2 separate regions of the Homo sapiens genome follow, and region 2 is linked to region 1. Evidence: fine-mapped expression QTL. A gene starts in region 1. The other region holds a variant in brackets. All regions are shown on one strand. Distances are between the middles of the regions. Region 1 holds the start of PDCD7 (programmed cell death 7). Region 2 overlaps DPP8 (dipeptidyl peptidase 8).

The links. PIP is the estimated chance that this variant, and not a neighbour inherited with it, causes the effect. A credible set is the group of variants that fine-mapping cannot tell apart.
Region 2: its variant is the best candidate, but not a certain one, in a credible set for the expression of PDCD7 in tibial artery (GTEx, PIP 0.75).

What each region holds. Positions count from the first base shown.
Region 1 is chr15:65,125,299-65,142,450 of GRCh38, reverse strand. PDCD7 (programmed cell death 7) reads left to right here and starts at 8,643. Exons shown (of 5, transcript NM_005707.2): 1 at 8,643-9,539; 2 at 13,281-13,419. The coding sequence starts at 8,670. RefSeq lists an enhancer at 8,358-8,457 and silencers at 8,748-8,957, 9,018-9,417.
Region 2 is chr15:65,468,858-65,476,857 of GRCh38, reverse strand. It overlaps DPP8 (dipeptidyl peptidase 8), which reads left to right. Exons shown (of 20, transcript NM_130434.5): 12 at 2,570-2,649. Among named protein-coding and RNA genes, the nearest start is that of DPP8, 45 kb to the left of the region's middle. The variant C/T (reference allele first, on the strand shown) is at 4,871.

The sequences.
Region 1 (17,152 bases):
GCTACTCGGGAGGCTGAGACAGAATCGCTTGAACCCGGGAGGCAGAGGTTGCAGTGAGCAGAGATCGCTCCATTGCACTCCAGCCTGGACAACAAGAGCGAAACTGTCTCAAAACAAAAGTGGCCGGGCGCGGTGGCTCATACGTGTAATCCCAGCACTTTGGGAGGCCGAGGTGGGTGGGTCATTTGAGGTCAGGAGTTGCAGACCAGCCTGGCCAACATGGTGAAACCCCACCTCTACTAAAAATACAAAAATTAGAGGCCAGGCGTGGTGGCTCATGCCTAATCCCAGCACTTTGGGAGGCCGAGGCGGGCGGATCACCTGTGGTCAGGAGTTCGAGACCAGCCTGACCGATATGGTGAAACCCCGTCTCTACTAAAAATACAAAAATTAGCCGGGCGTGGTGGAGGGCGCCTGTAGTCCCAGCTACTCAGGAGGCTGAGACAGGAGAATTGCTTGAACCCAGGAGGCGGAGGTTGCAGTGAGCCAAGATTGTGCCACTGCACTCCAGCCTGGGAGACAGAGCAAGACTCTGTCTCAAAAAAAAAAAAAAAAAAAAAAAAAAATTAGGCAGGTGTGGTGGCAGGTGCCTGAAGTCCCAGCTACTCAGGAGGCTGAGGCAGGAGAATCGCTTGAACCTGGGAGGTGAAGGTTGCAGTGAGTCAAGATCGCACCACTGCACTCCAGCCTGGGAGACACAGCAAGACTGTCTCAAAAAAGAAAAAAAAAGTAGACCTACAAAACTTAGAAAAAAACACAGGAGAAAATCTTCAGGATCTAAGGATAAGCATCGAGTTCTTGGACTTGACACCAAAAGCACAATCCAGAAAGGGAAAACTGATAAATTGGACTTCATCAAAATTAAGAACTTTTGCTATGCCAAAAGAAAAACCCTGGCCAGGTGCAGTAGCTCATGCCTATATTCCTGGCCTTTGGGAGGGAAAGGTGGGAGAATAGCTTGAGGCCAGGAGTTTGAGATCAGCCTGGGCAAGACCCCCATCTCTACCAAAATTTTTAAAAATTAGCAGGGTATGGTGGTGTCTGCCTGCAGTCCTACCTACCCTAGAAGCTAAGGCGGGGGCCGGGCGCAGTGGCTCACACCTGTAATCCCAGCATTTTGTGAGGCCAAGGCAGGGGGATCACCTGAGGTCAGTATTTGGAGACCAGCCTGATCAACACGGTAAAACCCCATCTCTACTAAAAATACAAAATTAGCCTGGCGTGGTGGCGCATGCCTGTAATCCCAGCTACTCAGGAGGCTGAGACAGGAGAATCGCATGAACCCAGGAGGCAGAGTTTGCAGTGAGCCAAGATCACACCACTGTACTCCAACCTGGGTGACAAAGCAAGGCTCCGTCTCCAAAAATAAAATAAAATAAAATAAAATAAAATAATAAAAATTATAAAAGTAGAGGATAGATTCATGGCTAAGGAGAAGATGGGTTAAGGAAGAGAACTGAATGTGGCTATAAAAGGGCAAATGAGGAATACTGGTAGTGATGGACATGTTTTGTATCAATGTCAATATCCTGACTTTGATAATGTAATAGGACTGCCAGGTTTGTATGCCAGCTACACAGCAATAGACATCTGACATACACTGACAACTGGGTTTGTACTGGAGAGTTTAATTTTTTTCCTTTTTTAAAAATTAAAAATAATTTGCAACACACAACTTTGCTCATGTAGTGAAGAGTTTAATAATCTCAAGATGCCAAACAAGGAAGCAGGAGGAATTCTCAAGCTTGAAATCTGTTTCCTCATAGGGTTCTGGGCAAGGATTTTTAAGGGGGTTGTGGAGGGTGAGGGACTAGAAAATTTGGGGTCATCGATTGGTTGGGTAAAGTGGATGATATGGTTTTGCTCTGTCTCCATCCAAATCTCATCTTGAATTATAAGACCCCACATGTCAAGAGAGGAACCTGGTAAGAGGTGATTGGATCATGGGGGCAGTTTCCTGCATGCTGTTCTGAGAGTGAATTCTCACGAGATTTGGTGGTTTAAAAGTGTTTGGCAGTTCCCCTCCTTGCTCACCCTCTCTCCTGCCACCTTGTGAAGAAGGTGCTTGCTTCTCTTTTGCCTTCTGCCATGATTATAAGTTTCCTGAGGCCTCCCCAGTCATGCAGAACTGTGAGTCAATTAAACCTCTTTATAAGTTACCCAGTCTCCAGTAGTTCTTTATAGCAGTGTGAAAATGAACTAATAGGCCAGGGGCAGTGGTTCGTGCCTGTAATCCCAGCACTTTGGGAGGCCGAGGTGGGTGATCACCTGAGGTCAGGAGTTTGCAACCAGCCTGGCCAACATGGTGAAACCCCATCTTTACTAAAAATAGAAAAATTAGTCGCACATGGTTGGCGGGCGCATGTAATCCCAGCTACTTGGGAGGCTGAGGCAGGAGAATTGCTTGAACCTGGGAGGCAGAAGTTGCAGTGAGCCAAGACTACACCATTGCACTCCAGCCTGGGCAACGAGAGTGAAATTCCATCTCAAAAAAAAAAAAAGAAAAAAGAAAATGAACTAATACAGGGGTTAAAATCAGGATGTGGAAATTTTTCTTTCATTAGTCAGCTTTTTGCTGGGTCCTTCGGACTAGCTGGCATGGTAATTTTGTTGGTATATAGAATCTAAAGGAGATGCTCAATGGAAAAATATATCTAACAATGTCTTAGATTTTATCTATAGAACAGGAAAATAAAAAAGACTTTTGTGAGGACAAGAGCTAGTTATCCTTGGGTAGTAAGAGTAGTGACCAACTACAAGGAACTGGGACAGAAGGCAAGCCGACTTAATGATTGTTGTTGATTGTGCTATAAGCCTACTTAGATTTTATTTTGCCTCCTATTGATTTTATAAACCGTTGCAGGTGAGCAGTGACTATCTGAGGCCAGTATCAGTGTGGGCAGTAAGAAGAATTTACCAAGACAGTTGTAGGTAAAGAAAGGCAGATTTATGAAAGAAAGTATGAAAATACATTGCAAGAGTGCAAGGGGCTGGTTAGCAAGAGAGGAGCTAACTGTGAGGAGACAAAGGCTTGCTGGGGATTTTATAGAATGGTGCTTGTGCTGTGTGCTGAAGAGGGCTTTGTGCAGTACTGATTACTGCAACCAAGGTTGCAGTTAGCTAACTTGCATTTTTCTATAAGCCAAGGGTCTGGTGATAGCTGGGCACAGGAAGATTGTGAGATATGAGCGCAGGAGGGCTATGTGTCCTGAACCATGAAGAAAGGCAGACTTGTAGCTTATCTGCCTTTCCTTTTTGCTCTCCCTCAGTCCTGCCAGCCCCACTCCTTTTCCCTAAACTCCACAAAAAGTTTTTTTAGGGATGGTTTTATGACAGGAAAATATCTTGGGCCCCTAAGATCACTAAGGAAAACTCAGGCTGGAAACTGCTTAGGGCAAACCTGCCTCCATTCTATTCAAAGTCAATTATCTGCTCACTGAGATAGATGCACATCTGATTTGCCTCCTTTGGAAAGGCTAATCAGAAATTCAACAGAATGTAACCATTTGTGTATCACCTGTGACCTGGAAGCGCCCTCCCCGCTTCAAGTCTTCCTGCCTTTGCTTCAAGTTGTCCCACCTTTCCAGACTGAACCAATGTACTTACAAATACTAACTGATGTCTCATGTCTCCCTAAATGTATAAAAGCAAGCTGTGCCCTGACCGCCTTGGACACGTCATCAGGACTTCCTGAGGCTGTGTCACAGGTGCGTCCTCAACCTTTTTTTTTTTTTTCCCTCCCTGAGAGGAGTCTTGCTCTGTTGCCCAGGCTGGAGTGCAGTGGTGTGATCTTGGCTCACTACAACATCCACCTCCCGGGTTCAAGCAATTTTCCTGCCTCAGCCTCCTGAGTAGCTGGGATTGCAGGTGTATGCAACCACAGCCGGCTAATTTTTGTATTTTTTTTTTTTTTTTTTTTTTAGTAGAGATGAGGTTTCACCATGTTGGCCAGGGTGGTCTCAAACTCCTGACCTCATGATCCACCTGCTTCAGCCTCCCAAAGTGCTGGGATTACAGCCACCACACCTGGCCAGCAAAATAAACTTTCTAAATTAACTGAGACCTGTCTCAAATTTGGGGGGTTTACAGTTTCAATATTGTTACTGGAAAGGGGTCCCAATCCAGATCCCAAGAGAGGGTGATATGATTTGGCTCTGTGTCCCCACCCAAATCTCATCTTGAATTGTACTCCCGTAATTCCCATGTGTTGTGGGAGGGACCCAATGGGAAATAACTGAATCATGGGGGTGGTTCCCCCCATACTGTTCTCATGGTAGTGAATAAGTCTTATGAGATATGATAGTTTTATAAAGAGGAGTTTCCCTCCACAAGCTCTCTTTCTGCCTGCTGCCATCCATGTAAGATGTGACTTGCTCCTCCTTGCCTTCCGCCATGATTGTGAGGCCTCCTCAGCCATGTGGAACTGTAAGTCCATTAAACCACTTTCTTTTGTAAATTGCCCAGTCTTGAATATGTCTTTATCAGCAGCGTGGAAACAGACTAATACAGTAAATTGGTACCCGTAGAGTGGGGCACTGTTTAAAAGATACCCAAAAATGTAGAAGCAACTTTGAAACTGGGTAACAGGCAGAGGTTAACAGTTTAGAGGGCTCAGAAGACAGGAAAATGTGGGAAAGTTTGGAACTCCCTAGAGACTTGTTGAACGGCTTTGACCAAAATGCTGATAATGATATGGACAATGAAATCCAGGCTGAGGTGGTCTCAGATGGAGATGAGAAACTCATTAGGAACTGGTGCAAGGGGGACTCTTGTTATGTTTTAGCAAAGAGACTGGCAGCATTTTGCTTCTGCCTTAGAGATTTGTGGAACTTTGAACTTAGGAGAGATGACTTAGGGTATCTGGCAGAAGAAATTTTTAAGCAGCAAAGCATTCAATAAGTGACTTGGGTGCTGTTAAAGGCATCAAGTTTTAAAAGGGAAATAGAACATAAAAGTTCAAAAAATGTGCAGCCTGACAATGCCATAGAAAAGAAAATCCCATTTTCGGAGGAGAAATTCAAGCCAGCTGCAGAAATTTGCATAAGTAACGAGGAGTTGAATGTTAATCTCCAAGACAATAGGGAAAATGTCTCCAGGGCATGTCAGAGATCTTTGCGGCAGCCCCTCCCAACACAGGCCCAGAGGCCTAGGAGGAAAAAATGGTTTCATGACCCAGGCCCAGGGTCCCGCTGCTGTGTGCAGTCTAGGGACTTGGTGCCCTGTGTCCCAGCCACTCCAGTCGTGACTAAAAGGGGCCAAGGTACAGCTTGGGCTGTGGCTTCAGAGGGTGCAAGCCCCAAGCCTTCACAGCTTCCACATGGTGTTGAGCCTGCGGGTGCGCAAAAGTCAAGAATTGAGGTCTGGGGCCGGGTGCACTGGCTCACGCCTGTAATCCCAGCATTCCAAATGATTGTGAGGCCTCCCTAGCCATGTGGAACTGTAAATCCATTAAACCTTTTTCCTGTATAAATTACCCAGTCTCAGGTATGTCTTTATTAGCAGCATGAAAACAGACTAATACAGAGGGTCCTTGGATCTTGTGCAAGAAAGATTTCAGGGCAAGTCCACAGTGCAAAGCAAAAGCAAGTTTATTAAGAAAGTAAAGTGGTGAAAGAATATCTACTCCATAGACAGTAGGGCGTTCCTGAAAGTAAGAGGAGAAACGTGTCCACCCTAGGTAGAATGCTTGCTTATATATAGGATAAAAAAAGATCATGGGGAGATGTGCTCTGCCACAAGGGTTTGTGATAAAGGATTAATTTTTTAAATTACTATATTTTACAAGAATCAACATTATTATCTTTAAAGCAAAATTAGGAATGCTTCTATTCTCAAAATATCGGGATCTCAGGACACTCCTAAGTACGGGTCTGTTTAGTAAATGTTATTAGTCTGTTCCCTTAACCATAAACATCTAGAGGCTAGGAATACCTAACTTCCTGGGAATGCAGCCAAGCAAGTCCCAGCTTCACTTTTCCTAGCCCTCACTCAAGATGGAGTCACTCTGGTTCAAATGCCTCTGACAATACTGTACTACAGTTTTACAAGATGTTACCCTTAGGGGAAACTGGGTAAAGGGTACACAGAATCTCCCTGTATTACTACTTCTCATATTCCATATGAATCTACAATTGTCTCAAAATAGTTTAATTTTAAAAATCTAATCAGGTGGCACAGGCTTCTCTTTACCTCTTGTTTAAAACCAATAGTTTCCCACTGGTCACAGTGGCTCACGCCTGTAATCCCAGCACTTTGGGAGGCTGAGGCAGGCAGATCACCTGAGATCAGGAGTTCGAGACCAACCTCAACAGGGAGAAACCACGTCTCTATTAAAAATACAAAATTAGTCGGGCATGGTGGTGTGTGCCTGTAATCCCAGCTACTCAGGAGTCTGAGGCAGGAGAATTGCTTGAACCTGGGAGGTGGCGGTTGTGGTTAGCCGAGATCGCGCCATTGCACTCCAGCCTGGGCAACAAGAGTGAGACTTGGTCTCAAAACAACAACAACAACAACAAAATAGTTTCCCATTGTTCATAAGATATGAGACCCCAGACATTAGGACTTCACTTCACCAGGATCACCAGACTCCTCTCAGAGCTCCATCCATAACTCGCATTCTTTTTTTTTTTTGGAGACAAGGTCTCGCTCTGTCTCCCAGACTGGAGTTCAGTGGTGTGATCTCGGCTCACTGCAACCTCCACGTCCTGGGTTAAAGCAATTCTCCTGCCTCAGCCTCCCCAGTAGCTGGGATTACGGGCACGCACCACCACACCTGGCTAATTTTTGTGTTTTAGTAGAGACAGGAATTCACCATATTGCCCAGGCTGGCCTTGAACTCCTGAGCTCAGGCAATCCACCCGCCTCGGCCTCCCAAAGTGCTGGGATTACAGGCCAAAACTGGCATTCTATCAGGCTTCCCACTAGACATAGTCCTGTAACCTAAGGCAGGTCCAGTTCCCTGCAGCTTGCAAATTCAAATAACAAGTAAGAGAATGGTAAAAAGAAAGTGACTGCCACGGGCACGGTGGCTCACGCCTGTAATCCCAACATGATCCAAGGCAGGCGGATCATGAGGTCAGGAGATCGAGACCATCCTGGCTAACATGGTGAAACCCCATCTCCACTAAAAATACAAAAAAATTAGCCAGGCATGGTGGTGGGCACCTGTAATCCCAGCTACTCGGGAGGCTGAGGCAGAAGAATGGCATGAACCCAGGAGGCAGAGCTTACAATGAGCCAAGATCACGCCACTGCACTCCAGCCTGGGCGACACAGGGAGACTCTGTCTCATAAAAAAAAAAAAAGAAAGAAAGTGGCCAGGTGTGGTGGCTCACACCTGTAACCCCAGCACTTTGGGAGGCCAAGGTGGACGGATCACCTGATGTAAGGAGTTTACGACCAGCCTAGCCAGCATTGTGAAACCCCCTCTCTACTAAAAACACAAAAATTAGCCAGGCGTGGCAGCAGGGGTCTATAATCCCAGCAACTGACTAGGGAGGCTGAGGCACCAAGAATAACTGGAACCTGGGATGCAGTGGTTGCAGTGAGTGGAGAGTGCGTCATTGCACTCCAGCCTGGGTGACAGAGGGACTCTGTCTCAAAAAAAGTGGGGGGTGCACGGGACTTGGTTGACCTGGATGGCATGCAAGGGGTGGGGAGGGACCAAGGAGGTGCTGGGTCTATGGGACTTGCTCCTATGTATCCATCAGTGATCTGGTTGGCGCCATGGAGGCTGGGGCGAAGGCGGAGGGGGGGTGGGGGGTAGCGGGGAGCTAGGTTGTAAATTGACAGTTGTCCCCAGGCAATCCCCTGGTATGGGAAAGTTCCAGAGGTCCCTGGTTTAAGCTTCGGTCCTTGGAACTAATAAGCGAACACATAATTAGATAAGCTTACAGTGTAGAGAGTGTCTGGTGGAGAGAAGGTAAAGGTTAATTGGATTTTTTTTTTTGACAGGTGTCATTCTGTCGCCCAGGGTGGAGTGCAGTGGCGTTATCGTGGCTCATTGCAGTCTTTACCTCCCAGGGCTCAGGTGATCCTCCCACCTCAGCCTCCCCAATGGCTGGGACTACAGGCCGATCTCGCCTGCCTCGGCCTCCCAAAGTGCTGGGATTACAGACGTGAGCCACAGCACCCACCCTATAATTGCATTCCTAAAGAGCTAAATAGGAGGTGGGGTGAAAGGAGAAAAGTAAAAATAATTCATTTTTCTAAGAAAATGGGTAGTTGGTCACACTCCTATTTACTAGGGCCTTTGCACATGTTCTCATCTGCACTGTGCTTCCCTCTCTTTTTCTATTTAACTATTTATCTTCCAGATCTCAGCTGCAGCCGCAGTTTCTTAGGATAACCTTCTCCAACTTCTCGAAGATACTCACCATGATTAATTGATTAGTGTGTTATACTAGGCAGATAGTTCCACGAAGAGAAGCTCTGTATCTCTCAGTCTCACTGTATGCGGAGTGGGTAGCTCTGCACCTAGGATGCTCAATAAGAACGGTATTTATGAACTGAACGACAGAAGGTTGAACGACTGCCCACTTATGCACTGAGCCTTCCGGAGGGACGAGTCTACAGGGGTCGCGCGTCGTAACGACGTCACTTCCGTCGGAAGGTTCTCATGAGGAGCCACTCAGATTCCTGTCACTTCTCAAAGCATCTCCGTCGTGAACATGGCCCTGCCACCATTCTTCGGCCAGGGTCGCCCAGGCCCACCGCCCCCGCAGCCGCCGCCTCCTGCTCCTTTCGGCTGTCCGCCACCGCCGCTGCCCTCCCCGGCTTTCCCGCCGCCTCTCCCCCAGCGGCCCGGCCCTTTTCCGGGGGCCTCCGCCCCCTTCCTTCAGCCTCCGCTGGCTCTGCAGCCCCGAGCCTCCGCGGAGGCCTCCCGCGGCGGAGGCGGCGCTGGCGCCTTCTACCCGGTGCCACCACCGCCGCTGCCTCCTCCGCCGCCCCAGTGTCGGCCCTTCCCGGGGACCGACGCCGGCGAGCGGCCGCGGCCACCGCCTCCCGGCCCGGGGCCGCCCTGGAGCCCGCGGTGGCCTGAGGCGCCGCCGCCGCCGGCCGACGTGCTCGGGGATGCGGCCCTCCAACGCCTGCGCGACCGGCAGTGGCTGGAGGCGGTGTTCGGGACCCCGCGGCGGGCAGGCTGTCCGGTGCCCCAGCGCACGCATGCCGGGCCCAGCCTTGGCGAAGTGCGCGCGCGATTGCTCCGGGCTCTGCGCCTGGTGCGGCGGCTGCGCGGCCTGAGCCAGGCCCTGCGCGAGGCCGAAGCCGACGGCGCGGCCTGGGTCCTGCTGTACTCCCAGACCGCGCCGCTGCGCGCGGAACTGGCCGAGCGGCTACAGCCGTTGACCCAGGCTGCCTATGTGGGCGAGGCGCGGAGGAGGCTGGAGAGGGTCCGGCGCCGCCGGCTGCGGCTTCGCGAGAGGGCCCGGGAACGCGAGGCCGAGCGGGAGGCAGAGGCCGCGCGGGCAGTGGAACGCGAGCAGGAGATTGACCGCTGGAGGGTGAAGTGTGTGCAGGAGGTGGAGGAGAAGAAGCGGGTGAGAGCAGCGGCCGCTCATGGGGGTAGGAGTGGTGGTGGTTGGAACCTGGAGCAGCAGGAGGCTTTAAACTTCCATTTCCCAGGGCTAAGCCTCTGTTTTACGCGCAAAATGAAGCGATAGCTAACCTTCCCAGCTCATACCACCATGTTAATTTTGTGTTAATGATGTGTGGTACACAAAAGTTCCAGGTGCACTGTAAAATCCTGTAAACACAAAGTATAGGATTACACGGTGGCACTGCACGAATGACAGGTCTCCCCTATCCTGCTCCAACATTGTCCACTTACTCTCAAAACCAGTAAGTGTCTAGTTCCTTGTGTCTTGTACTGCCCTAGGTGGTTTTAAGAATACAAAATACAGGCCGGGCGCGGTGGCCCACGCCTGTAATCCCAGCACTTTGGGAGGCGGAGGCGGGTGGATCACGAGGTCAGGAGTTCAAGACCAGCCTGGCCAAGATGGTGAAACCCCGTCTCTACTAAAAATACAAAAATTAGCCATGCGTGGTGGCGGGCGCCTGTAATCCCAGCTACTCTGGAGGCGGAGGTTGCAGTGAGCCGAGATCGCACCACTGCATTCCAGCCTGGGCGACAGAGCAAGACTCCGTCTCAAAAAAAAAAAAAATAGAGAACTTGGGGACCCTACCTCAAGGAATATATATACTCTAATTAGCTGATGGGGCAATAGTGATTTCCCTAGGATTCTTTTGTTTACAAGTTTTAAACCATGTATCCCCAGGTTCAGCAATGGTGTTTCGGAGCATTTACTATATATATATATATATATACACATACATACATATATATACACATACATATATGTATGTGTATATATATGTATGTATGTGTATGTGTGTATATATATGTATGTATCTGTGTATATATAGAGAGAGGTGTGCTAAGGTCATTACATATACCAGATTTTGAATCTTTATAACAGCCTTGAGAAGTAGGAAGTATTATGCTAATTTTACAGGTTAGGAAGTTGCATAGAGAGGTTAACTTGCCAACAGTCACACAACGAGTTTGTGGCAGTTTCCCATATTTGATCCCAAGTTGTCTAATTCCAAAGCGTATTGATCTCAGACTCTTTAAGCAGGGCCAGGGTAAAACTGGAAATTGTTCAGATGGTTTTCTAAGGCATTTTCTTTCTTTCTTTTTTTGAGATGGAGTTTCGCTCTTGTTGCCCAGGCTGGAGTGCAATGGCATGATCTTGGTTCACCACAACCTCCACCTCCCGGGTTCAAGCGATTCTCCTGCCTCAGCCTCCCGAGTAGCAGGGATTACAGGCATGCACCACTACACCCCAGCTAATTTTGTATTTTTAGTAGAGACAGGGTTTCTCCATGTTGGTCAGACTGGTCTCGAACTCCTGACCTCAGGTGATCCACCCGCCTCAGCCTGCCAAAGTGCTGGGATTACAGGCGTGAGCCACTGCACCTGGCCGTCTAAGGCATTTTCATTACCTTTGATTGCCTCTGGGGTTCCCTTTCCTCTTCCTCATTATTTCTATTATTATTACATTATAATACATAATGAAATAATTATACAACTCACCATAATGTGGAAACAGTGAGAGCCCTGAGATTGTTTTCCTGCAACTAGACAGTCCCATCTGGGGGTGATAGGAGACAGTGACAAATCATCAGGCTTTAGATTCTCATAAGGAGCCCACAACCTAGATCCCTTCCATGCGCAGTTCACTTCTTTGTGCTCCTATGAGAATGTAATGCTGCTGTTGCTGATCTGACAGGAGGCGGAGCTCAGGTGGTAATGCAAGCAATGGGGGAGTGGCTGTAAATGGAGATGAAGCTTCACTTGCTCGCCTGCCTCATCTTTTGCTGTGTGATCTGGTTCCTAACAGGCCATGGACTGGTTACCATCCGTGGCCTGGGGTTTGTTGACCCCTGGCTTAGAGATCTGTGGGAGATCATGTCAGTATAGCGTGGTGTGTGTTAGGAATTCAACTATAGGTGCTGTAAAAGCCCAAAGAAGGAACATCTGATTTACTGAGGGAATGCTTCCCAAATGATACAATGACACGTAAGCTGAGTCTTTTTTTTTTTTTCTGAGACAGAGTCTCGCACTGTTGCCCGGACTGAAGTGCAGTGATGCCGTCTTGGCTCGCTGCAACCTCTGCCTCCCAGGTTCAAGCGATTCTCCTGCCTTAGCCTCCAGAGTAGCTGGGATTACAGGTGCACACCACCACTCCTGGCTATAAGCTGAGTCTTAAAGGAAAAGTCACCCAGGTGAAGGTAATAGGTGCAGTTCCAGGGAAACAGAGTAATCCAAATGGAGAAGTGAAACAGCTTGGTGTTGGCTGTAGCTGTAGTGGTGGAATTACAGGCACTTATTTGACAGATGGGGGAGAGCACTTTAGGCAAGAGGATTCTCTCCACCACCCATGGTGAACTTTTTATTTTATTTATTTTATTGTTTTAAGGAGACAGGGTTGGGGCTGGGCGCCGTGGTCATGCCTGTAATCCCAACACTTTGAGAGGCCAAGGCGGGCGGATCACCTGAGGTCAGGAGTTCGGGACCAGCCTGGCCAACGTGGTGAAACCCTGTCCCTACTAAAAATACAAAAAATTAGCTGGGCATGGTGGCAGGAGCCTGTAAACCCAGCTAATTGGGAGGCTGAAGCAGGGAATCGCTTGAACCCAGGAGGCGGAGGTTGCAGTAAGCCGAGATCGCGCCATTGCCCTCCAGCCTGGACAACAGCGAGACTCCATCTCAAAAAAAAAAAAAAAAAAAAAAAGAGGGTTGGGGGCGGGTGCGAAGTGGCTCACTCCTGTAATCCCAGCATTTTGGGAGGCTGAGGCAGGCAGATTACTTGAGCCCAGGAGTTCCAGACCAGCCTGGGCAACATGGAGAAACCTCGTCTCTACAAAAAACACAATTAACTGGGCATGGTGATGCTGTGATCACACCACTACACTCCAGCCTGGGCAACAGAATGAGACCCTGTCTCAAAAAAAAAAAAAAAAAAAAAAAAAATACAAAGTTTCACTCTGTTGCCCAGGCTGGAGTGCAGCGGGTTTGTCATAGCCTGTAGGTTTGAACTCCTGGTCTTAAAGTGATCCTCTCGCCTTAGCCTCCTGAGTAGGAATAGCTAGGGACACATGCCATTATGCCCAGCTTCCATGGTGAGGATATTGGTGACAGAGTCTTATGAGGAGTGGCTTGAGGAACTGGGGTTATTTAGTCTATATGTGAACTAAGTCAAGAGTAGGACAGCAATCTTTGGTATTTGAAAGGCTGTCATGTGGAAGAGATCCTTGGGACTTTAGAGCAGTGGAACACAAACATAGGTTGTCACTAAGAGACCTTTGTAGAGGTCTCAGCCTTTCCAGCCACATTCCTTATCCTTCCTGGGAATCTGAATCTTCAGGTCTAGGGAATCTGCATTTTTAACAAGTCTCAGCTTAACAAGGTAAGTTGGACACCTGATCTCTGCACTACACTTTGAGAAACACTGAGGAAGAAACAAAACCAGTGCTATGTGGAAGATACAGAGAGGAGAGGTTCTCCTTTAAGATGAAGGTTGTACCATCAGTGGAGGGGGATAACCTCTTAGCTAGAGGGGAGTTGTGCAAGGCCTAAGAAATTGGGATGGAGATTCAATAGAGTCTCTCTTAACCTGGAGACTGTCTGATCCTTTAAAATCTAACCACTGGGCAGCTATTCTCTGCTGTAAGTTTGTTCCTAATACGAGGTCTCATGGGCTTTGTTTCTCTTCCAGGAGCAGGAACTCAAAGCAGCCGCTGATGGCGTACTATCTGAAGTGAGGAAAAAACAAGCAGATACCAAAAGAATGGTGGACATTCTACGGGCTTTGGAGAAATTGAGGAAACTGAGGAAAGAGGCTGCAGCGAGGAAAGGTAACTGTGGCTTTGCATTTCTTTCCTTGTTCCCTTCCCCTTCTTTACTCTAGCTCCTCCCACCCCAAATATTATTGAGGGAAAAATACTTGAAACTTCATGATTTTCACCTTGTCGGGTAACTGGGCTTGTCAGCAAGTAGGTCAGAACTTCTGAAGCAGGAAGCCTCAGAAGATGTTTAGCCTGTGGTAGCCCAGATTGAAAAGAGAGGCAAGTGTGGGAACCCACTGCACTGTCTTCCCCTTGACTTATCATTCCTACCCTGGGCATTTCTGGCCACACTCTTCTGAGTGGGCTTGTCATGGCTAGTCACCTTTGCCTTGTGCCAGAGTGAAAGCTTTTCACCCTTACTTGTTGCTCCAGAAAGTGTTGAAAACTTGGCATGCTTCTTCAGATACATTTCAAACCTGAATTATTTCTATTTGAAGAGGTATGAATGGTTGGACAGGGCAGGGATTGCAGACTGTGTGGATTTCCCCACCTTCCCTTCATGTCACTGGTCTCTTCTTGCCTCTGGAGGAAGCACCAGACACTATAGCCAGGCAGTTCAAGCTTCTCCACCGAAGTTTGTTTCAACCATGCTGGCTTTCTAGAAGTTACCCAATTGTGCTTTCCATTTGCCTGTCTGGATCTTAGCTGTTGTCATTCTGTTCATCTGGAGGGCCCTCAGTCCCATCTTTGCCATTTTAAGATCTCACTATTCAAAACCAAATACACATGCAGCATCCTTCATCCTTCCCTGATCTGGGCTGAGGTAACCTCCTGTTGCTTCTCACTTGCACCTGCTTTGGACCACATGCTGATTTATTTAGTAGATTGTAGGCCTTTGGTATTCACCAGAGATATTTGAGAGTGTACAAATTAGCAAATGCCACTCTAACAAATGATTTCCCATGTGTTGTTTAAAATGTAAATGAAAACTGGGATTCTTTTAGACCCTTAAGAAAGTTGTGTTGGAATATGACCATTTTGTATTCACCCAGGCTCGTTTGCTAGCTAAGTGATTGGCTTTTGCATACTAGCCTTCAGAGCGGCTAATTCACATCCAGACCTCAGAAACAGATGCCTCCATTGTGGTACTCTCAGGGCATTTGTAAATCAGAGGGAAGTTAGCATCTGCTTTGTCTACCCATCTCTTTTTCACTAGAAGGCAAAACCTGAGAGCTATTTAATATTCCCACACCTCACATCCTCTATGAGGTGAGTGCTCAGTAAACTTCTGCCAAGTGAATTTACCAGCATTTCCCAATATTAATCTTCCTCACTTTGGTCCAAAAGGAGGAGGAAATTTTAGGAAAATCATTATCTATAGAAATAAACAGACTTTGTGGCATTAAGTGACTTGAATGTAAAATGATTTGGTAAGTAGCAGCTGGTTGCATGCATATTTAAAATGAGCAGCTAACTTCTCTCTTCAAGATGTGTGCACCTCCAACTAAGTGCTGAATGATGAGGCTGGATGTTTAAGCAGGACCACGTTGCAAATTGTCTTATGGGCTATGCTAGAGTTCTCACTTATACTTAAAGCTTTGGGGAACCGCTGAAAGTTTTTTTTTTTTTTTTTTTTTGAGACGGAGTCTCGCTCTGTCGCCCAGGCCGGACTGCGGACTGCAGTGGCGCAATCTCGGCTCACTGCAAGCTCCGCTTCCCGGGTTCACGCCATTCTCCTGCCTCAGCCTCCCGAGTAGCTGGGACTACAGGCGCCCACCACCGCGCCCGGCTAATTTTTTGTATTTTTAGTAGAGACGGGGTTTCACCTTGTTAGCCAGGATGGTCTCGATCTCCTGACCTCATGATCCACCTGCCTCGGCCTCCCAAAGTGCTGGGATTACAGGCGTGAGCCACCACGCCTGGCCCCGCTGAAAGTTTTTAAGTGAAATGATGGCAAAGATCAGTGCCAGTAGAGCAGAGAAAGTTTTGGAGCATCCAGGAGAGAGAGAGAAGGGCAGAGAGATGGGTAAGGCTATTGGGCACGGGTAGTATGGAAGCATAAGCTGAGTGACGTCAGTGTGTAGGAGAATTGAGAGGTAATGAGTAATTCAAGTGATAGTGAATAATTGAGTAATTCAGAATTATTAGTGAATAATTCTCAAGTCAAAGAATTGAGAGATAATGAATAAAGGTATATGTGTATATACCCATGTACATATAAATAAATAATTTAAGGAACTCAGAGTACAGGAACTAAAGGGAAAAACAATGAAATGTCTTCCAGATTCTAGCCTCATCTACTGAATAAGTGAAGATAGCTTTTTTTTTTTGCTTTTTTTTTTTTTAAAAGACAGGGTCTTGCACTGTCGCCCAAGCCGAAGTGCAGTGGTGCAATCATAATTCACTGCAGCCTTATACTCCCAGGCAGGAGCGATCCTCCCACCTCAGCCTCCTGAGTAGTAGAGACTACAGGTGCACACCACCACACCTGGCTAATTTTTAAATTTTTTGTAGAGATAGAGTTTCGCCATGTTGCCCAAGCTGGTCTCGAACTCCTGGGCTCAAGCGATTCTCCCATCTTGGCCTCCCAAAGTTCTAGGATTAAGGGTGTGAGCCACTGTGCCTGGCCGATACCATTCTAATTAAGAAGGAAAACAAGGGAGGAGGAACAGGTTTAGGGTTGACAAGTTCAGTTGGGGACCTGTCGAGTTTGAGGTGTGTGTGGTACATCCTGGATAAGAGTTCATTAGCATGTAGCCATGAGTCAGAATGACCTTAAGGAGATTGTACAGCATGAGATGAGGGCCAAAAAGACAAAATCATAGGGAATGTCAAAATCAAGGTAGAAGATGAAGAGAGCAAAAAAGAGACCAAGAGAGGTCAGAGAGATGGGAGGAAAAGATAGACTCCCTGCTTCCTTCTGGAAAGTGGCAAGTGCTTAGAGAGAGATTGTGTAGTCTTGGTGATATGGTTTGGCTGTGTCCCCACCCAAATCTCATCTTGAATTGTAGCTCCCATAATTCCCACATGTCGTCGGAGGGACTTGGTGGGAGGTAATTGAATCATGGGGACAGGTCTTTCACATGCTGTTCTTGTGATCATAAGTCTCATGAGATCTGATGGATTTATAAAGGAGAGTTTCCTTGCACACGCCCTCTTTACCTGTCACCATGTAAGATATAACTTTGCTCCTCCTTCACCTTCCGCCATGATTGTGAAGCCTCCCCAGCCATGTAGAACTGTGAGTCAATTAAACCTCTTTTATAAATTACCCAATTTCAGGTATATCTTTATTGGCAGCGTGAGAATAGATTAATACACTTGGACAGGTTACTTGAGCTTCTCTGAACCTTTGTTTCCTCATCTGCAAAAAGGGAGTAATGATAGTACCTACCCATGGGGTGTCGTGAGGATTAAATTAATAAATATGTGTAAAGTACTTAAAACAGTCCTGGCACATAGTAAATGCTATATACATGTTTCATATTATTATTCTTTTTATTATCAAGAAATAAGGAACATCCATGGGAATTAGTATCCAACCGGTCATTAGTGACCTATGCTAGGGGCATTTCAGTGGAGTGGTGGGGGTAGAAGCCAGACTACAGTTGGTTAGAGAATGAATATGATACAAGAAAAGCAAACAGATAATTCAACTTATTAAAAGATTGCCTGTGAAGAAAAGGAAAGAGCAACATCAGTATCTGGCAAGGTGTGTGGTAGTGGTGATGGTGAGGGGTGTTGTGTGTCTTTGGGTCATGGGGAAAACTTAAGCATGGTTAAAATTGCTGAGAGGAGTGAG
Region 2 (8,000 bases), 340 kb before region 1:
TGAGTAAGGTTTCGTTGTATGTATATACCACATTTTGTTTATCTGTTCATCTGTTGATGGGCACTGGGATTGGTTCCACCTTTTGGCTATTGTGAATAATGCTGCTGTGGACGTGGGTGTACAAGTATCTGTTCCTGTCCCTGCTTTCAATTCTTTTGGGTATGTACTCAAAAGTGGAATTTCTGGATCATATGGTAATTCTATTTTCAGTTTTTTGAGGGGCTACCATACTGTTTTCCATAGGAGCTACACCATTGGAACACCAACGGTAGTGGCTACTGCTACCCCATTTTACATTCCCACTAACAGTGCACAGGGTTTTAATTTGTCTACGTTCGGATGATAGTTGTTATATTCTGCTTTTTTAATAATAGCCCTCTTAGTCTTTCTTGCTCCAAGTCATCCTCCTTTACCTTCATATCTACTTCATTTCCTTCTCCCTCCTCTTTGCTTTCTTAAGAGCTGTAATGTAAAACAGTTAGTATTTGTTATCTATATGTTAACATATAATTTTATGTTTTAAAAAAATTAAATTTTATTTTAATTTCTGTCTATAGTATTTAAAGTACTAAATTGATTTTTTAATTTTTTTGTGCTCTTCGAGTTTAAAATATTTTTTTAAACTTACGTGGAACCCTAGGAAAGACACTAATACAGCCTCACCACCTAGGCCTGTCATCAGCTGTCACTCCCCACAGCAATAGATATAAGCAGTGAGGAAAAGAGAAATGATTTTCACTTTTTAAGCTGTTCCTTAGGCCGCTGAGAGAGCCTCATCAAGACAGAAGCTCATAAAAACAAATGGGTGCTGGGTGAGGTGGCCCACGCCTGTAATCCCAACACTTTGGGAGGCTGAGGCAGGCAGATTGTTTGAGTCCAGGAGTTGAGACTAGCCTAGGCAACATGGCAAAACCCCATCTCTACAAAAAAGACAAAAAAAAATTAACCAAGTGTGGTGGCATGAGCCTGTAGTCCCAGCTACTTGGGAGGCTGAGGTGGGAGGATCACCTGAGTCTGGGGAGGTAAAGGCTGCAGTGAGCTGTGATGGTGCCGCTGCACTGTAGCCTGGGCGACAGAGCAGAACAGGAAAAAAACAAAAACAAAACAAATGGGGCATGTTGACATTTGCTATGGTAAACACTTACCTGGGTTATTTTTTGGCAAATGAAGAACAATTGTATTAAACATTTTCTTTTGTGAGTTTTAAAGTAGTTTGTTGCATTTCTAGAAGAAATGCCTTGTTGAAATAGCTGATATGGCTACCTCAGAAGTGCCAGGGAGTCAAGCCAGTCCTAATTCAGTGCCTGGGGATGGATTGCACCGGGCTGGTTTTAATGCCTTTATGGCAGGTCATGTGATGGCCTATGTGGGAGTGAGACAGGGACCCCAGCCCTGCAGCTCTGGACCCTGGCTCCCTGAATGCCATAATAAGGTATATTTGAGTGGCAAAGCTGTACCCCTCACAGTGGCCAAGAGCCAGTTCTCCTGTTCCTCCAAAGCCCACACTCAGAAGATAAAGCTGGCTCGGGGCAGCAGCTGACCCAACTTCCACCTACCACTGGGGTGGAATAGAGGTATTTGGGTCTCTCTAGCCTCTCTCTGTAAATGTCATACTCTCAACTAACTACTGAGTTTAGGGGAGGGGGAGTATCCTGGCAGAAATATCACTGCATTGCCCTGGACTTCCTCCTTTACCCCAGTGTCAGAGGTAGAAGGGTACAAGTAAGAAGGCTGACCAACACCTTTAACACTGACTTTATTTATTTTTAAATCTGAAAATGTCTTGGGAAAGTTTTACAAAAAGAAAAAGAGAAATCAACAGAAACAAGTTATGAAAAAAAAACAACGAAAAGAAATGCTTTGTCAATCCATTAGACTTCTTTGTCTAACCAAAGGTTCAAGAATGCAGGTGCTTTTGAGTTTTCCTCTGGCTTTGCCAAAAAATCTCTTTTGCTGTTTTTGCATTACCTAAATAGATCATTCCATTATTATTCCAGAGTATTGTAAAGACTCATAACTTGGATTTTTTTTAACTGTAGACTTTTTTTATTGAAGTGAAATTCATAAAACGTTAAGTTAACCATTTAAAAATAAACAATTCAGGCCCATGCCTGTAATCCCAGCACTTTGAGAGGCCAAGGCCAGGGGGCTTTAGGCCAGCAGTTCAAGACCAGCGTGGGCAATATAGTGAGACCTCATTGCTACCAAAATAATAATTTGCTGGGTTTAGTGGTGTCTAGTTCTAGCTACTCAGGAGGCTGAGGTGGGAGGAAAGCTTGAGCCTAAGTGGTCAAGGCTGCAGTGAGCTGTGATCATGCCGCTGCACTCCAGCCTCAGCAACAGAGCGAGACTGTCTACAAAAAAATGAAAAATAAAAATAAACAAACAATGCAGTGGCATTTAGTACATTCACAATGCTGTGCAACCATCATCTCTGTCTAGTTCCAAAACATTTTTATTACCCCAAACATAACTTTTTGGAAAAAAGAGCTTAGAGTACTGTTCTTAATTGTTTCATTTGCTTATAGTCTGGTATAATGTACTGAATTATAATTATATTTATCTTCAGGTGATTTCAAGTGTCCTATCAAAGAGGAGATAGCAATTACCAGTGGTGAATGGGAAGTTCTTGGCCGGCATGGATCTAATGTATGTTATTTTATTCTACTGATATGTTTGGTCAGTATTACTGTGTGAATGCAGTGCTAAAAATGAGTAATGTAATTTAATATGACCCCGGTATTTTTTTTTCCGAGACAGAGTCTTGCTCTGTCGCCTAGGGCTGGAGTGCAATGGGGTGATCTCGGCTCACTACAACTTCCACCTCCCGGGTTCAAGCAGTTCTCCTGCCTCTGCCTCCCAAGTAGCTGGGATTACAGGCATGTGCCACCACGCCCGGCTAATTTTTTTGTATCTTTAGTAGACACGGGGTTTCACCATGTTGGCCAGGCTGGTCTCAAACTCCTGACCTTGTGATTCGCCCTCCTCAGCCTCCCAAAGTGTTGGGATTACAGGCGTGAGCCACTGCGCCCAGCCGACCCCAGTATTTTTAAAATATTAAGTTACGGCCTAAAATTACTCAAGTTGTTGGAAAGAAATAATCTTAGTTTAAATGATAAATCTCATTTATTTTATAGCCCTTTTATAGATGTGTTCTGATTACCAAAGGTTATTTTCTTTTCTTTTTTGTGAGACAATGTCTTGCTCTGTCACCCTGGCTGTAGTGCAGGGCACAGTCATGGCTCACTGCAGTCTCAACCTCCCAGGCTCAGACGATCCTCCCACTTCAGCCTCTGGAGTAGCTGGGACTACAGGTGTACGCCACCACGACAAGCTAATTTTTAAATTTTTGGTAGAGACAGGGTCTCATATATATTGTCTGGGCTGGTCTCAAACCTAAACACCTACTACACCTAACTATCTACTACTTGCCCCTACATTTATCAGTTTTCTTTCATGTCATGTTTACTTGTGATAGGTTAGTCTGTCTGTCTTCTCTATTTTCCCTCTATTCTTCTTTTTTTTTTTTTTTGGAGATGGAGTCTCACTCTGTCGCCCAGGTTGGAGTGCAGTGGCATGATCTTGGCTTACTGAAACTTCCACCTCCTGGGTTCAAGCAATTCTCCTGCTTCAGCCTCCCGAGTAGCTGGGATTACAGGCACACACCACCATGCCCGGCTAATTTTTGTATTTTTAGGAGAGAGGGTTTCGTCATGTTGGCCATGCTGGTCTTGAATTCCTAGGCTTGAAGGATCCTCCCACCTTGCCACCTCCCAGGTGTGAGCCACTGCGTCCTGCTCACCATTTGCTTTTCTTTTTTGAGACAGGGTCTGACTTTGTCGCCTAGGCTGGATTGCAGTGGCACAATCTTGGCTCACTACAACCTCTGCCTCCTGGGCTCAAGCCTTCCTCCCACCTCAGCCTCCCAGGTAGCTGAGACTACAGGCACACACCACCACACCCAGCTAATTTTTGTATTTTTTGTAGACGGGATTCCGCCATGTTGCCCAGGCTGGTCTCAAACTCCTGAGCTAAAGCAATCCACCTGTCTCGGCCTCCTGAAGTGCTGAGGTTACAGGTGTGAACCACCACGCCTGGCCAAGCCCACCATTTTAAAATGTATTATTGCTCCTTGATGAGAAAGGGGCATATTCATAGTTTTAGAGCCTAGCAAAAGTTGTAAGTTAGCATATGGTTTGAAAAGTAACTTAAAAATCTATTATAGACTACTTGTGTCTACATTATAAATTGCGTTTACTGGCTGGGCACAGTGGCTCACATCTGTAATCCAGCCCTTTGGGAGATGAAGGCTGGAGAATCGCTTGAGGCCAAGAGTTCAGTAACAGTTTGGGCAACATATAAGACCCTGTCTCTGCCAAAAATAAAAAATAAAAAAATTAGCTGGGCATGGTGATGCGCACCTGTAGTCCCAGCTAGTTGGAAGGCTGAGGCAGGAGAATCGCTTGAGTGCAGGAAGTCTAGGCTGCAAATGAATTATGATCACATCACTGCACTACAGCCTGGCTGAAACAGTGATACTCTGGCTCAAAAAAAACCAATAAATAAATAAATAAATAAATTGCATTTACTTCTTCTGAAGTAGTACTTGTCTTTCATTCATGTGTTTATCTTGCCCCACAAATTTAAACTTTAATCCACCACCTGCAAAGAGTGATGGGCATTTATACAGAGCTTAGATTGATAGGGAAAAGGAAGGAAGTCTACCCTGTGTTTTATTCTCAGTACCAATTCAGTGAATTCTTTAAAGAAAAAAAAATTGCGTTTTTGAAGTACCTTGCATTTGTTTCAGCTGTCACTTGGATGATCACATTCATGAGATCTCTAGGAACTCCATCCTGTATGTGTGTGA[C/T]ACATATAGTTGAGGTATGCTGCCAGGATTTAGTGAAGGCCTAACTAAATGTGGTTTCCTCAAATTGACAGGAAGATTTATTGAAGGATTATGTTTACTGGCTACTGTAAAAATCACTTGTAGTCTCTAAAGTGATTAAGGAGACATAATGAAGATCCAGATCCCAGGTTTGTTTTTGTTAGTAAAAACTTTAGAGTATCTGCTGGGCATGGTAGCTCAAACTTGTAGTCCCAACACTTTGGGAGGCCAGTGTCGAGGGATCACTTGTGCCCAGGAATTAGATACCAGCCTGGACAACATAGTGAGACTCCGTCTCTGCAAAAAAAATTTTAAATTAGGCAGGTGTGGTGGGGCATACCTGTAATTGCAGCACTTTGGGAGGCCAAGACAAGAGGATTGCTTTAGCCCAGGAGTTTGAGGTCAGCCTGGGTAACATAGGGAGACTCCATCTCTACCAAAAAAAAAAAAAAAAAATAGGCTGGTTATGGTGGTGCATGCCTATAGTCCCAGTAACTAAGGAGGCTGAGGTGGGAGGATCGCTTTAGCCCGGGAGGTTGAGGCTGCATTGAGCTGTGATCACAATGCTATGCTATAGCCTGGGTGTCAGAATGATACCCGCCTCAAAACAACAGCAACAACAAAAACTTCAGGGTATCAAGACTGACCTTTAAGGTCTCATTTCCACTGAGATCCTCAAGTGGCCTTCTTGTTATATATCCAAATAATTTTTTTCTGTTTTATTTTTGTTTCCAAATATTTTTTTCTGTTGAAGTACCTTGGATATTACTGTCACCTGAGAAAAAAATCTTATTGTGGAATTCTAGGTTCTGAAAACAGAAAACTACACTGATGTAAATTTCGTGCTATGTGATGATTGAAGGATGAGTCATTACATAATGCTGAGGGAACCCCAATAATTGTAATTGCATACATCTGATCCTTATTTGAGTCACCTAAACATCTACTACTTGCCACTACGTTTATCAGTTTTCTTTCATGTCATGTTTACTTGTGATACGTTAGTCTGTCTTTCCCTCTTCTCTATTTTCCCTCTTTTTTTTTTTTTTTGAGATAAGAGTCTCACTCTGTCACCCAGGTTGGAGTACAGTGGCATGATCTCAGCTTACTGCAACTTCCGCCTCCTGGGTTCAAGCAGTTCTCCTGTTTCAGCCTCCCAAGTAGCTGGGATTACAGGCATACACCACCATGCCCAGCTAATTTTTGTATTTTTAGTAGAGACAGGGTTTTGCCATGTTGGCCAGGAGGGTCTTGAACCCGTGACCTCAGGTGATCTGCCCACTTTGGCCTCCCAGAGTGCTAGGATTTCAGGCGTGAGCCACCACACCTGGCCTTTTCCTCTATTCTTTTTTTTTTTTTTTTTTGAGACAAGTCTCATTCTTGTCCCCTAGGCTAGAATGCAATGGTGCGATGTTGGCTCACTGTAACCTCTGCCTCCCAGGTTCAAGCAATTCTCCTGCCTCAGCCCCCTGACTAGCTGGGATTACAGGCACCTGCCACCAAGCCTGGCTAATTTTTGTATTTTTAGTAGAGACGGGGTTTCACCATGTTGGCCAGGCTGGTCTAGAACTCCTGACCTCACGTGATCTGCCCACCTCAGCCTCCCAAAGTACTGGGATTACAGGCGTGAGCCACCATGCCCAGCCCTTTCCCTCTATTCTTGATTTGTTTTTTGACTTAAGTTACCTTTTTCCTTCTCTACTTTTACAAGTGACTGTTCCCACCCAAAGTTGTTTTCTTTTTTCTTTCTTTTTTTTTTTTTTTTTTTTTTTTTGAGACAAGAGTCTCACTCTGTTGCACAGGCTGGAGTGCAGTAGTGCGATCTCAGCTCATTGCAACCTCCGCCTCCTAGGTTCAAGTGATTCTCCTGCTTAAGTCTCGAGTCGCTGGTATTACAGGTGCCCATCACCATGCCCAGCTAATTTTTGTGTTTTTAACAGAGATGGGGTTTTGCCATGTTGGCCAAGCTGGTCTCGAACTCCTGACGTCAGGCAATCCTCTTGCTTTGGCCTCCCAAAGTGCTGGGATTACAGGTGTGAGCCACCACACCTGGCCATCTACCCAAAGATTTCTAATGGCAGTAATTGGGTAAAGCTTTAAGACTTTTAAGCCTATGAGCTTCTTTTTCTTTTTTGAGATGGAGTCTCGCTCTGTCACCCAGGCTGGAGTGCAGTGGTACGATCTCGGCCCACTGCAACCTCTGCCTCCTGAGTTCAAGGGATTCTTATGCCTCAGCCTCCCGAGTAGCTGGGATTATGGGCATCCACTACCACACTTGGCTAATTTTTGTAATTTTTTTTTTTTTTTTTTTTTTTTGAGACGGAGTTTTGCTTTTGTTGCCCAGGCTAGAGTGCAATGGCATGATCTTGGCTCACTGCAACTTCTGCCTCCCAGGTTCAAGCGATTCTCCTGTCTCAGCCTCCTGAGTAGCTGGGATTACAGGTGCATGCCACCATGCCCAGCTAATTTTTGTGTTTTTAGTAGAGATGGGGTTTCACCGTGAGACCAGGCTGGTCTCAAACTCTTGACCTCAAGTGACCTGCCGCCTCCACCTCCCAAAGTTTTGGGATTACAGGCCTGGACCACTGCGCCCAGCTGCCTATGAGCTTTTTATTGTTAAGGGTGGTTCTCAAAGTGCTGGACCAACAGCAAAGTGTCAGCATCACCTGGGAACTTGTTAGAAGTGTACATTCTTGGCTGGGCGCAGTGGCTCATGCCTGTAATCCCAGCACTTTGGGAGGCCGAGGCAGGCGGATCATCTGAGGTCAGGAGTTCGAGACCAGCCTGGCCAACATGGTGAAACCCCGTCTCTACTCAAAATACAAAATTAGCCAGGCGTGGTGGTACATGCCTGTAATCCCAGCTACTCAGGAGGCTGAGGCAGGAGAATCGCTTGAACCTGGGAGACGGAGGTTGCAGTGAGCCGAGATCGCGCCACTGCACTCCAGCCTGGGCAACGAGAGCGAAACTCGGTCTCAAAAAGCAAAAAGAAATGCACATTCTTAGGCCCACCTCTGACATCCTGAATCAAACTCTGGTGGTGGGGCTTAGTAATCTGTTTAACAAGCCCCCCACACAATTATGATACTTCCTTGGATGTTAAGTAGTTACA